Linked DNA regions of Homo sapiens: region 2 is linked to region 1. The links come from fine-mapping of genetic effects on gene expression. A gene starts in region 1. The other region holds a variant in brackets. All regions are shown on one strand. Distances are between the middles of the regions.

Region 1 (5,377 bases):
GTTGATTGATGCAATTGAATACCATGAACCTGTTAAAAATCAAAGTGTGTGGAAGATCATTTAATAATGTGGAAAGATGTTCCTGATATACTGTTAAATAGTAGTTTCCAAAAAGTATACACAGCATGTTCACATTTTTGTTAAAAAATTTCTTAATTCACACTTAGAAAAAGGGTGGCAAGGAAATGCAACAAAATGTTGACTAAGGGGTGATCTCTTGGTGGAAGAATTATATGTGATTTTATTTTGTGCTTTCTTTAATCAACCTTTCCTGAAAATACTAAAATAAACAGGCACGACTTTGATAATAAGAAAAAAGGTATTTATATTGTAGAGAAAAGGACTCTAAACAGGACCACCTCCCCAGACCCACTGACTGCCTCTCTCTGCCTCTTTGTGCTGAGGATGACCATTCTCAATGTGCAGAGCTATAAACCCCAATCTGCCCTGCCTGGTGTTTTCCTGCTTGTATCTGCACACTTCCCTTTCACGGGCACATGGAACATGAATTCTAAGGGAGATGAAGTAATATCCTGGACTCTAACGGAATGCAAACCTATTTAGGGAAATGCTTTCTGATTTTGGCTAGCATCTGCCAAATGCTAGTAAGAAAAACTTCATTTATTGCCCTTTGGTGAATATGCAGTCATCCTAGAGCTCTTCCTCAGTTGAATCCTTAAATTTCTCTCCCTCCTTTTAAAAAATATGTCTGCCTTCTTATTGCCTCTCTCCAAGGAATCAGCATTGCTTCACCTGTGTTCTTGGTCCTCTTTATCTCTTTTCCTAGGCGGAAAACCTTGAGTTCACATCCAACATCTGCATATTTATTTCCTCTCGCATAGTGTTGGTCAACAGGATGACTCTATAGCTGAACTGACCTGTATCCTTCCTGTTCTACTTTGTTCCCAGTGACTTGTGTCCTGGACTATGGCAACTGGTCTCACAGCCCCTGCCAACACCACCAGTCCGTCCTGTCCACTTTGCACGAGCTCTTCCCAAATCACAGGTCTCATGTTGCCCCTCCCCAGCCTAACACTCTCAGCATGGCCTGCAGTAGAGATTCCTCAATCAGTGGTCTTTCAAAAATGCCTTTAAAAACGCTTAATATGCCTTTAAAAAGGCTTAATAGGAAAAGTCCACACCAACTCCATAAAATACCTCACAAAAGAAGTTTAACATTTTTGATTGGTATTTCTATCTATTATTTCTATTTAGTAATTTGGTTGAGTAAGCAAAGATGTCTTTGATTAATACAGATTGCAAATAAAATCATTGTTAATTAATGCCTTTTGTTTGGTCACCAAATCTTAAAAGCGTAAGTTAGGTCCTTTGAGGAAGATGGAGGAGAAAGGGCATATATATGACAAAGGGTCTTTGGTACTAAAAAGACTGGAAACCACTGGTCCACAAGATTAAGGCCCCAATTCCTTGGCATGGCAATTAAAGACCCCCTGCCCCATATATCCCTTCAACCTCCTCCTCTGTCATGCCTCCACATACACCCCATGCTCTAGCTAAGCACCTCTCACTTCTTCCCACACCTTTGCTTAAGATGTTACTTCCACCTTAAGCCCTTCACTTCCCGTTACTTTTCAGCTCATCCTTTAAAAGGCTTTGCTCAGAATACCTTCTCCTGGGGAAGCCCTTCCCCAGTTCCCATTTGGAATTAATGGAGCTCCTGGAGGTCCTTTACACTGCCCTGCATCAGACAAAGCCTTATTATTATTATTTATAACATGACCCCCTTGTCCTGACCTCCAGGAAGGCAATGACCAGAGTTATAGTTGCTGTCACCCCAGTACCTGCTAGAGTTTGGCTGTGGTAAAGGCTCATGGACTGTGTGTTGATAGGCTTAAATTCCAAGTGTGATGCCATTCTTTGCTGAGAGCCATGTGCATTGCAATTTACTAAGCTCCAGTTTTCCTCTGATCAAGGCAATCTCTCACAACAGAAAGCTGGCTCAGAAACTTTGGAGCAAACCGTCCTGGTTTGAATTCCACAGCTGCTACTTATTCGGTGGTGACCTTGTGCAAGTTACTTAATCTTTTTTAAAAAATAAATTTTATTGTGTATATTTAAAGTATACAACACGATGTTGTAAGATACATATATATAGTGAAATGGGTCCCATCATCTCACAGAGTTACCCATTTCCCCCCACTGAAGTCACTTTATCTGGCTATGTCTCAGCTTACCACCTCAATAATGGGGGAACACCATTAACTCTCACAATGATTTAAAATAGGTGTCACATTGTAGGCTTTCTATAAATTTTATTTCCCGCCCACTGTGAGAAATGAACTTGATAAACTCAACAGTCCCAGGCTACTCCATTCATAGGAAAGAAAACTTCAAGCTTTCAGTTCAAAAGGAAATGTTGGATTTAGCATTTAGGGCTGGAATTTGGCTTCACATCTTGCCCTCTTACCCACCCCAACTTCAGACCATTACCACTCTGATTAAATGGATTTGTTTCAGCTCCCACCCATATTACATCCTGATTCCTTTTCAACAAATTCCTGGACATCTTCACAAGAAGGGAACAGAATTTTGTGATTCAGAGTTATTTGATTGATATTCTGACCTTATTTCTTCTTTAAAGAACTTCTTGCAAATAGATGTCCCGATGCAGGCATTGCATTTATCAAGACCGAGGAAAGTCCTTCCAAAATTGTAGCTGGTTCTGACTTGGGGCACCAGAGAAGAAAGGGAAGAAGCTGGCAAGGAGAAAGAACAGCTCAGGGCTGAGACCCACAGCAGCAGGGCCAGCCAGCCAGGGCGGAGGGCGGCAGCCTCAGGCCCCAGCTGGGGCTCCATCTTGGGCTCTGGGCTCCAGCTGCAGCCTCTGGCTGTCCACTCGAGGCTGTACAGAGGCAGGGCTTGGCCAAAGAGGAAGCTGTCAGAGGGGGCTGGCTTCTGGGTGCTGACCCCATCCCAGCCTCCCAGGTTTCTCTTTGAGGATGCTGAGGAGCTTGGGGCTAATGAGGCTGGGGAGGAGGTGAGGAAGTCAGTGGAGGATGCTGATAACGCTGTTTCCAGAGTTACTCTTCCTTTGCCGGGGGTGGCTGCTTCAGGCTGGGGAGGGGCTCGCTGGCAGATTTCGGGAAGGACAATTGTCAGGGCTTCCCTGTGTGGTCCTTTTGACAAACACAGGATATCCCGGCAGGGCAGGAAAGGTCCATGCAGGATGTGTGTCCAACCTGCGTTCCACCTGGGAGTTTCAAAGGATCCTGAAAGCCTCCACCCTCCACTGTTTTAATTCCAGGTTTATCTGTCCCTATGGATTACACGTGCACCCCAATTTTTGACCCCTCTGTGCTAGGTCATTTGTCCTGCCCCTTAATCAGCCCTCCTTCCCCCACTTTTACCATATTTGCCTGTGAAATAACTAGAGGTTAGCTTGCTTGCCATTAACTGGCACATTTAGCACTGATTTGAAAGCTTTTTGCTGCTTAGGGAAGAGAAAACCTCAGGTTAGTCCATCTTCTCTTGCTGGTCTGAGAACAAGAGACCAGAAAGAACCCGGTGGCCTCTGTGGCATGATGAGGGGAGCACCAGAAAGAGCCCTCTGACAGCACACAGCTGTGTCTATCCCTCTCCCACAGACCTGAAAGCTTCTCTTCCTTTACCAACTTGCTTCACTTCTCGGGGTGGCTTGGCCGGATTTGGTAGGATTTAACTGCCCCAGGATTGCCTTCCTCAGGATACCAAGATAAGGTCCGCAGCATGGAGTAGATGGAAGTGCTAATTTGGGAGTAGAGAGAACCTCTGAGAACCAAATCAGGGAAGTCAGGCTGCCTCACATTCTGTGAGAGGGTGGAGGTGGGGAGCGGGGCACGGTTTGAAAATATGAGAAAGTGCATAGGAAGATGGGGCTGGGGGTGAGGAAAAGGGAGGTAAGAGGGAGTGGGGATTGCCTCTGGACAATTGACAAGTTTTGCTAAAGATTGGTGGGAAGAGCAGGTAAAGGCAATTTTCTGATGATGAAGCACGTGCTTATTAGCATTTGTATAGCTTCCTCAGTAAAATGTCTGGTCATGTTTGCTTTTTATTGGTGAGTTTTGACGCTTGTTTATATATTCTAGATCCGAGTCCTCTGTTGGATATGTGGCTTGCAAATATTTTCTCCCCAGGGCTAACTTGTCTTTTATTCTTTTAACAGAGTCTTCTGCAGAGTGAAAGTTTTGATTTTGAAGTCCAATTTGTTAATTTTTTCTTTTTGAATCATGCTTTTGGTGTCAGGTGTGATAAAAGAAAAACTTAAGCACATTTAAATTTTAAAGAGTTTATTTGAATATTCAGCGATTCATGAATCAGGGCAGTATCAGACTGCAAACATTCTGCTGGGAGGGGCAAGAAAGGAAACTTTTATAGTGTTTGCAGAAGCAGGACAAAGAAAACAATTTTTATTGGTTAGAGTGGAAAGTCCCTAGTTAGAGATTAATTGGTGATTTTTTTGATTGGTACAATTTCTAGTTTAAATTTACTATTTACATTAGGCTTTGGTTTGTTCACACAGGAATTTAAAGTGCCAGAGCCACCTCAGTCTAATGGCCTTCCAATTAGAATTTTAAAACATAATTCATCCTTTTTGATCAGCCTCTCATTTAAGAGATATTGACTAAAACTTGGGCATAAGCTCCACTCTCTGTGACCATCATGGCTAAGTTGTCCTTGTCTCAGTGTGAAACTCATAAGTCACAACATCAAGCTCATTGAGGAAAGATTCCTTTTGTTGTTCATCTCATTTTTGTTGCTCTAATTACAGTGAGATCATCTGGCATACCGTTGATGACTGTGAACACACATTTAAGACCCTCAAGTGAATGTAGTTCACCAGGGAGATTATGATGACTACCAGGAGGATAATACTGAAAGACTGCAGTATGTTCCTTAGCCAAGGTCCTCACAAACCAACTCAACTAACATTTCTAGAGAAACAAAAGAAAACCAAAGGTCAATGACTAGAGCAAACTATAAATTCAGTCTGAGTCCAGAGGAAATTTAGTTAACAAGATTGCTAGATTTGAGCTTGAAACATATTTTTCTGGTTTGCAGTTTGAATGTCTCTGGTTATGGTACTGAGGGTTTCAATGATCTTCCTGAGTGGTCCACATATCAGGCATAAGGGTTGTCCTCAGAAGTCACATCAAGTTGTCTATAACTGCCTGGCAGGGTTTCAGGAACAGAGCACATCTTGTTCTGAGTGATTTCAAGTCTGAAAAATGGGAAAAAATTGGATTGGAGGAATAAAGATGAATTCAGAATTCAGTCCAGTCTACAAATAGACAATAAAACTCAAAAACAACAAATATGGCTACAATCTACTATCAAAAATTATGCACAGATCTTTTCAGACATTACAGGGGTCCTCTGG
Region 2 (5,377 bases), 43 kb before region 1:
TCCCAGCACTTTGGGAGGCCGACGCAGGTGGATCACTTGAGGACAGCAGTTTGAAGCCAGCCTGGCCAACATGGCATAGCCTTGTCTCTACTAAAAGTGCAAAGATCAGCCAGGAGTGATGGCGCATGTCTGTAATCCCAGCTACTCTGGAGGCTGAGGCAGGAGAATCACTTGAACCCAGGTGGTGGAGGCTGCAGTGAGCCGAGATCGTGCCACTGCATTCCAGCCTGGGCGACAGAGCGTGACTCTGTCTCAAAAAAAAAATATATATATATATATATATTTATATAAAAATAAAACAGTACAGGTACCTTGTTCTCGGACAGGGCAAAAATCATAAGGGTGGTCTGTGGGTGACTGAAGTTTTGGGAACTACTGTACTGGCCTTAAGCCCCTCTTCTGCCAGCCGTGGGTGAATCTGTCTGGCTGGGGTAGCTATATACATCGTACAGATGTTCCCCAACTAACTGGAACCTTCCAGACAGCCTAAAACTGGCCTAGGGAAGCATGAAGCCCCGACCTGTCTCCTCTGCCTCCTTGTAAGAGGTCCAAACCTGTGGATTTGTAGATGAAAAGTGGGGAGGAATCCTGGCTAACCTTTTCTTGACTATTTCTTAAAGCAGCTATATCTAGAATGGCTATATCAGCACTTTATTGCTTGTTTTCCTTCTTTAAAAAATAAAGTCATCCCCATCTCTGATGGTTTTTTGCAGTCCTCTGCCCATTTTAACGCACATACTGCATTGTGAAGAACCCGTGCCCATTTGAGTTTCCCCTGCCTAAAGGGGACCTCTTTTTTTTTTTTTTTTTTTTTTTTAGACAGAGTCTTGCTCTCTTGCCCAGGCTGGAGTGCAGTGGTGTGATCTTGGCTCACTGCAACCTCCACCTCCCGGGTTCAAGCGATTCTCCTGCCTCAGCCTCCTGAGTAGCTGAGATTGCAGGTGCATCCCACTGTGCCTGGCTATTTTTTTTTTGTATTTTTTAGTAGAGACTGGGCTTCATCATGTTGGCCAGGCTGGTCTCGAACTCCTGACCTCAGGTGACCCGCCCACCTCAGCCTCCCAAAGTGTTGGGATTACAGGTGTGAGCCACAGCACCCGGCCCAGAGGGGACCTTTCTTACTGTGTACCGCGGAGGGAAGTCCTGGGCCTACTGTCGTTGTCTACAGGTGCGGCCACACAGCCATTCCCGGGTTCCATGACTTGCCCTTCCTGGGCAGAGCCCAGGGCTGAGTCCCAGCCCCATGCTCTCATCCCACGCCTCTCAAGAGCCAGGCCTAAAAGTAGCCAAGGTCTTTTCTGGGAGAAAAGATCTGTGAGAGTGCAGGACAACCCGCAATTCCTTTTCCTCTTCTAGTATTTCAAAGGCCAATGTCGCCAGGCAGGTTTTAGTGGGAAGAGTGTGGCCTTTGAGGGCAGGCAGATGGCTCTGCATTTGGGTTCTATTGCTGACGTTGGCTAAAAGTGACTTGGGCCAAGTCACTTCACATCTCAGAACTCCACTGAATCTCATCTGGAAAAGGGGACAATAATAATATTCTCAGGGGGTGGCTGTGAGCATTAAATGAGATAATGTCAAACCTTCAGCCAAATGCCTGGCACATAGCAGGTGCTCAGTGAATGAGAGCTGTTATTATGTATTCAATCATCATGCCTTTGGCCGGTGTTTATTAACTGTCTTTGCTGTGGCTTCTTCCTCCTCTACCTGCACCTTTTCCCCCTCCTATTCCTTCTCTTCTCCTCCTTCCTTTCCCTCTCCTCCTCTCCCGCCTTCCTTCCTCTTCCTTTTCTTAGTCCTCTTCTTCCTCCTTCTCCTCCTCACCTTTCTCTTCTTCCCTCTTTCTCACTCTACTCCCCCTCCTTTTCCAGCTCCTCTCTCCCAATTTCTAGTTCCCTTTGTGTCCTTTATGTGACCCCTGTGTCCTTACCCTTGAGGTCAGGGGTCAGTCGGAGTGATTGGGCTCCACATATTTTATGGGTGTTTGTTTCCATGATAAGTGTCTGTCTCTACCACTGGACTGGAAGCTGCATGAAGGCAGGAGACACCATACTTGTCTTGTTGACCAGTGTATCTCCAGGCCCTTAATGCATCTTCATTTATTTGACCATTCCCCTGTGTATGGACATTTAGGAGTTACTTCCTTTGTTTTCCTCTCCTTCCAAGCATAGATGCAAGGTACCTCTCTGGGTGGGTCATTCTTTGGCTATTTCTCCACTTCCTGAGCTCGGCCCCATCTGACTAATCTTTGAGGCACAGGTCAAAGTCGGCCTCCTTCACAAAGCCCTTCAGGGCCACTCAGGCAGTGAAGGTGGCTACTGTTCCCTCCTATCCCCATCCCGCTCCCAGCTCTGGGCTCCCACACCTGTTTCCTCTACAGCAGCCACAGCACTTTCACACTGCAGAAGCCAACACATGCCAGAAAGGTCCTAACACGGGCTAGTGGCCCAAGACATGCAGTAAAAGGAGGGAGAGAGCTCAATCCAGGGAGGCTTCTGGGAGTCCAAGATTGACCCCCAACCTAGAGGGCTTGCCAGGTCGCTGCATACCTGTAGGAGGATGGGGTGCGAGTTGACAGCCAGCGTGTAGAGCAGGCGCAGCTTGTCACGGTCGGTGAAGTGGTCCATGAAGATGCTGCCGGCGTCGGCCACCTCTGCATAGCGCCTGACCACGCGATCCAGGAGTCGCTGCGAAGGGCAGCGCAGGAGCGGGCTGGCCAGGCCCTACGCGCAGGTGGGAGAGAGGCGGGAGAAGA[A/C]GGGGGCGGGGCGCTAAGCTCTTGTGGGGGGTTAGCAGGAGGGGGAATGGGCAGATCCTGCTGTTGGGGGTGAGGGAGATCTTGAGGCTGGGGGGCCAGGTGGGGCGTGGGGAAAAGACCTGCAGGAGTGGGGATTGTGGGGTGGGAGGGGTTGGGTAGCTCTGCCCAGGCGGAGCAGGGGGCAGACCCCTGTGGCTGGGAAGAGGGGCCAGAGCACTTTTCGGGGGTGGGGTGGGAGGCCCCCTCCCCCACCACAGGCTACACTCGGGGCGGGGCCACAGAGACCCCGGGAACAGAGAAGGGAATGAGCTCTCTTGGGCAGCACGGCAGGAGGGCACTGGGCAGGCTGAGGGCAGGGCAGGGGAGAGGAAGAAGGGGAGAGAAGGCGGACTCCACCTTTCTCCACCCCTCAGCTGGCCATCTGAGTTTTGCATTACCTGTGTCTCTACCCACCATTGCACCCCCACCCTGCCCTTGGAAAGAAGGCTGATCCCAGGCTGAATTCATTCCCTGCCATGGGCTCTTTCGATTCCTTCTGCCATCTGACTTGGATATCACAACTATGAGGCTACACTTGAGCGTTTTTATATGCACCACTGTGTTCTTGGGATAAGACTTGGAGATACGAACCTAGGCTTTTTTTTTTCTCTCATGACTTTCTAGCCAGCCCCTACACCTTTTTCCCCATGCTGAACAAAGAAGAGCATGAACCTCCTGATAAAAAAAAATAGAGTTAAGAACAAGGCCCTGAGGCCAGCCTGCCAGAATTTTACCCGCTTCCACAACTACCAACTGTGTGACCTTGGACAAGTTACTTAGTCTCTCTGTACCTCCGGTTCCAGTTTGAAGTGAGGAGGACACTAAGAGATCATGAGGATCAAGTAAATTAATAGATGTTAATTCACATTTGGTACCTCATTGAATCCTCTCAGGCCCTCCACGAAGTAGGTGCTATTATGAACCTCATTGTGCAGCCAAGGAATTGGAATGCAGAGTGTAGGTAATGGTTGGAAAAATTGGATTCAGGATTTGAACCCAATGGGTTAGACTCTAATATCTGTGCCTTTTCCCCGTAATAGGCCCTGCCCTGCCCCCCTCTCCATAAACTACCCAGGTGGAGGCCATAGAAAATGATTTGAGGCTATGAGAAGGCCTCTGCTTCTGATCATCTTCTCCTACACAGCCTGAAATTCCACCATTAGAGATGATCATTGGGGAGCAGGGGGCGGGGGTGGGGATAAGTAATTTTTTCTCTTCTCCAAGAGCCAGTTCTTAAATGAAGGTATCTCTGGGAGAGATAGGACACTAATTGACCAGAGCAACAACAACAATAATACGTAATAATTATTGAGTGCTTACTACACAACAGGAGCTGCTCTAAGCCCTTCATAGGTAGTGTATTCTTTCATTTACTTCACAAGAACTTATTATTGCTCCACTTTTCAGATGGTAATACTGAGATGTAGAGAGATTAAGTCAGTTGCTCCAAGTCACATATACCTAGCATTAGAACCAAGACAGTACACCGGGTGAGAGGTAGGTAAGGATAGATAAAGGTAAATAAAGATAAGGGAGCCAGGCAGGACCTGCACCCTTATCTTTACTGGGAATGAGAGGATCACATCATATAACCCTGCAGTTAGCACCAGACTGTATTCAGACTGTATTTGTGGACACAAAGGGAACAAAACAGGACCTGCCCTCCGGGGTGTCTCTCAGCTGGGAGAGACCATCAGGTGCCCAGCAGTTAAGATGTGGCACAGGAAGGGCTATGACTGCAATGAGCTATTGGAGCCAACAGGAGGAGGGCCACATTACAACTTTCATGGGCCCTTAGTACCCTTGCTTTCACAGGCCCCTTCCTCCATGAAAAATATTACAAATTATATTTTACAACTGCATTGATATGAAGACAAATATATTAAAATTATACATTCAAACATTTTCTTGGAATTAAAAGTTTGCTTTTTTCTTCTGATTTTGAAAGAAATCAAAACATTTTTGTGGGACCCTGATATGGTTTGGATCTGTGTCCCTGCCCAAATCTCATGTGGAATTATAATCCCCAGTGTTGGAGGTGGGGCCTGGTGGGAGGTGATTGGATCATGGGAGCAGATTTCCCCCTTATTGTTCTTGTGATAAGGAGTGAGTTTTCATCCTTCCTCTTCGCCTTCTGCCATGATTGTAAGTTTCTTGAGGCCTCCCCAGCCATGCTTCCTGTACAACCTGAAGAACTGTGAGCCAATTAAACCTCTTTTCTTCATAAATTACCCAGTCTCAGGTAGATCTTTTTTTTTTTTTAATGAGACAAAGTTTCACTCTTGTCCCCCAGGCTGGAATGTAATGGTGCAATATCAGCTCACTGCAACCTCCGGCTCCCAGGTTCAAGCCATTCTCTTGGTTCAGCCTCCCAAGTAGCTGGGATTACAGGCATGCACTGCCATGCCTGGCTAATTTTTTTATATTTTTAGTAGAGACTGGATTTCACCATCTTGGCCAGACTGGTTTTGAACTCCTGACCTCAGGTGAACCACCCACCTCAGCCTCCCAAAGTGCTGGGATTACAGGCATGAGCCTCAGGTAGTTCTTTACAGCAGTGTGAGAATAGACTAATACAGACCCTAA

The links. PIP is the estimated chance that this variant, and not a neighbour inherited with it, causes the effect.
Region 2: its variant is the best candidate, but not a certain one, in a credible set for the expression of DIPK2B in gastroesophageal junction (GTEx, PIP 0.88).

Annotation. Positions count from the first base shown.
Region 1 is chrX:45,198,010-45,203,386 of GRCh38, forward strand. It overlaps DIPK2B (divergent protein kinase domain 2B), which reads right to left and starts at 2,867. Exons shown (of 5, transcript NM_176819.4): 1 at 2,585-2,867. The coding sequence starts at 2,817.
Region 2 is chrX:45,155,169-45,160,545 of GRCh38, forward strand. DIPK2B (divergent protein kinase domain 2B) reads right to left here. Exons shown (of 5, transcript NM_176819.4): 3 at 2,547-2,720. Among named protein-coding and RNA genes, the nearest start is that of DIPK2B, 43 kb to the right of the region's middle. The variant A/C (reference allele first, on the strand shown) is at 2,753.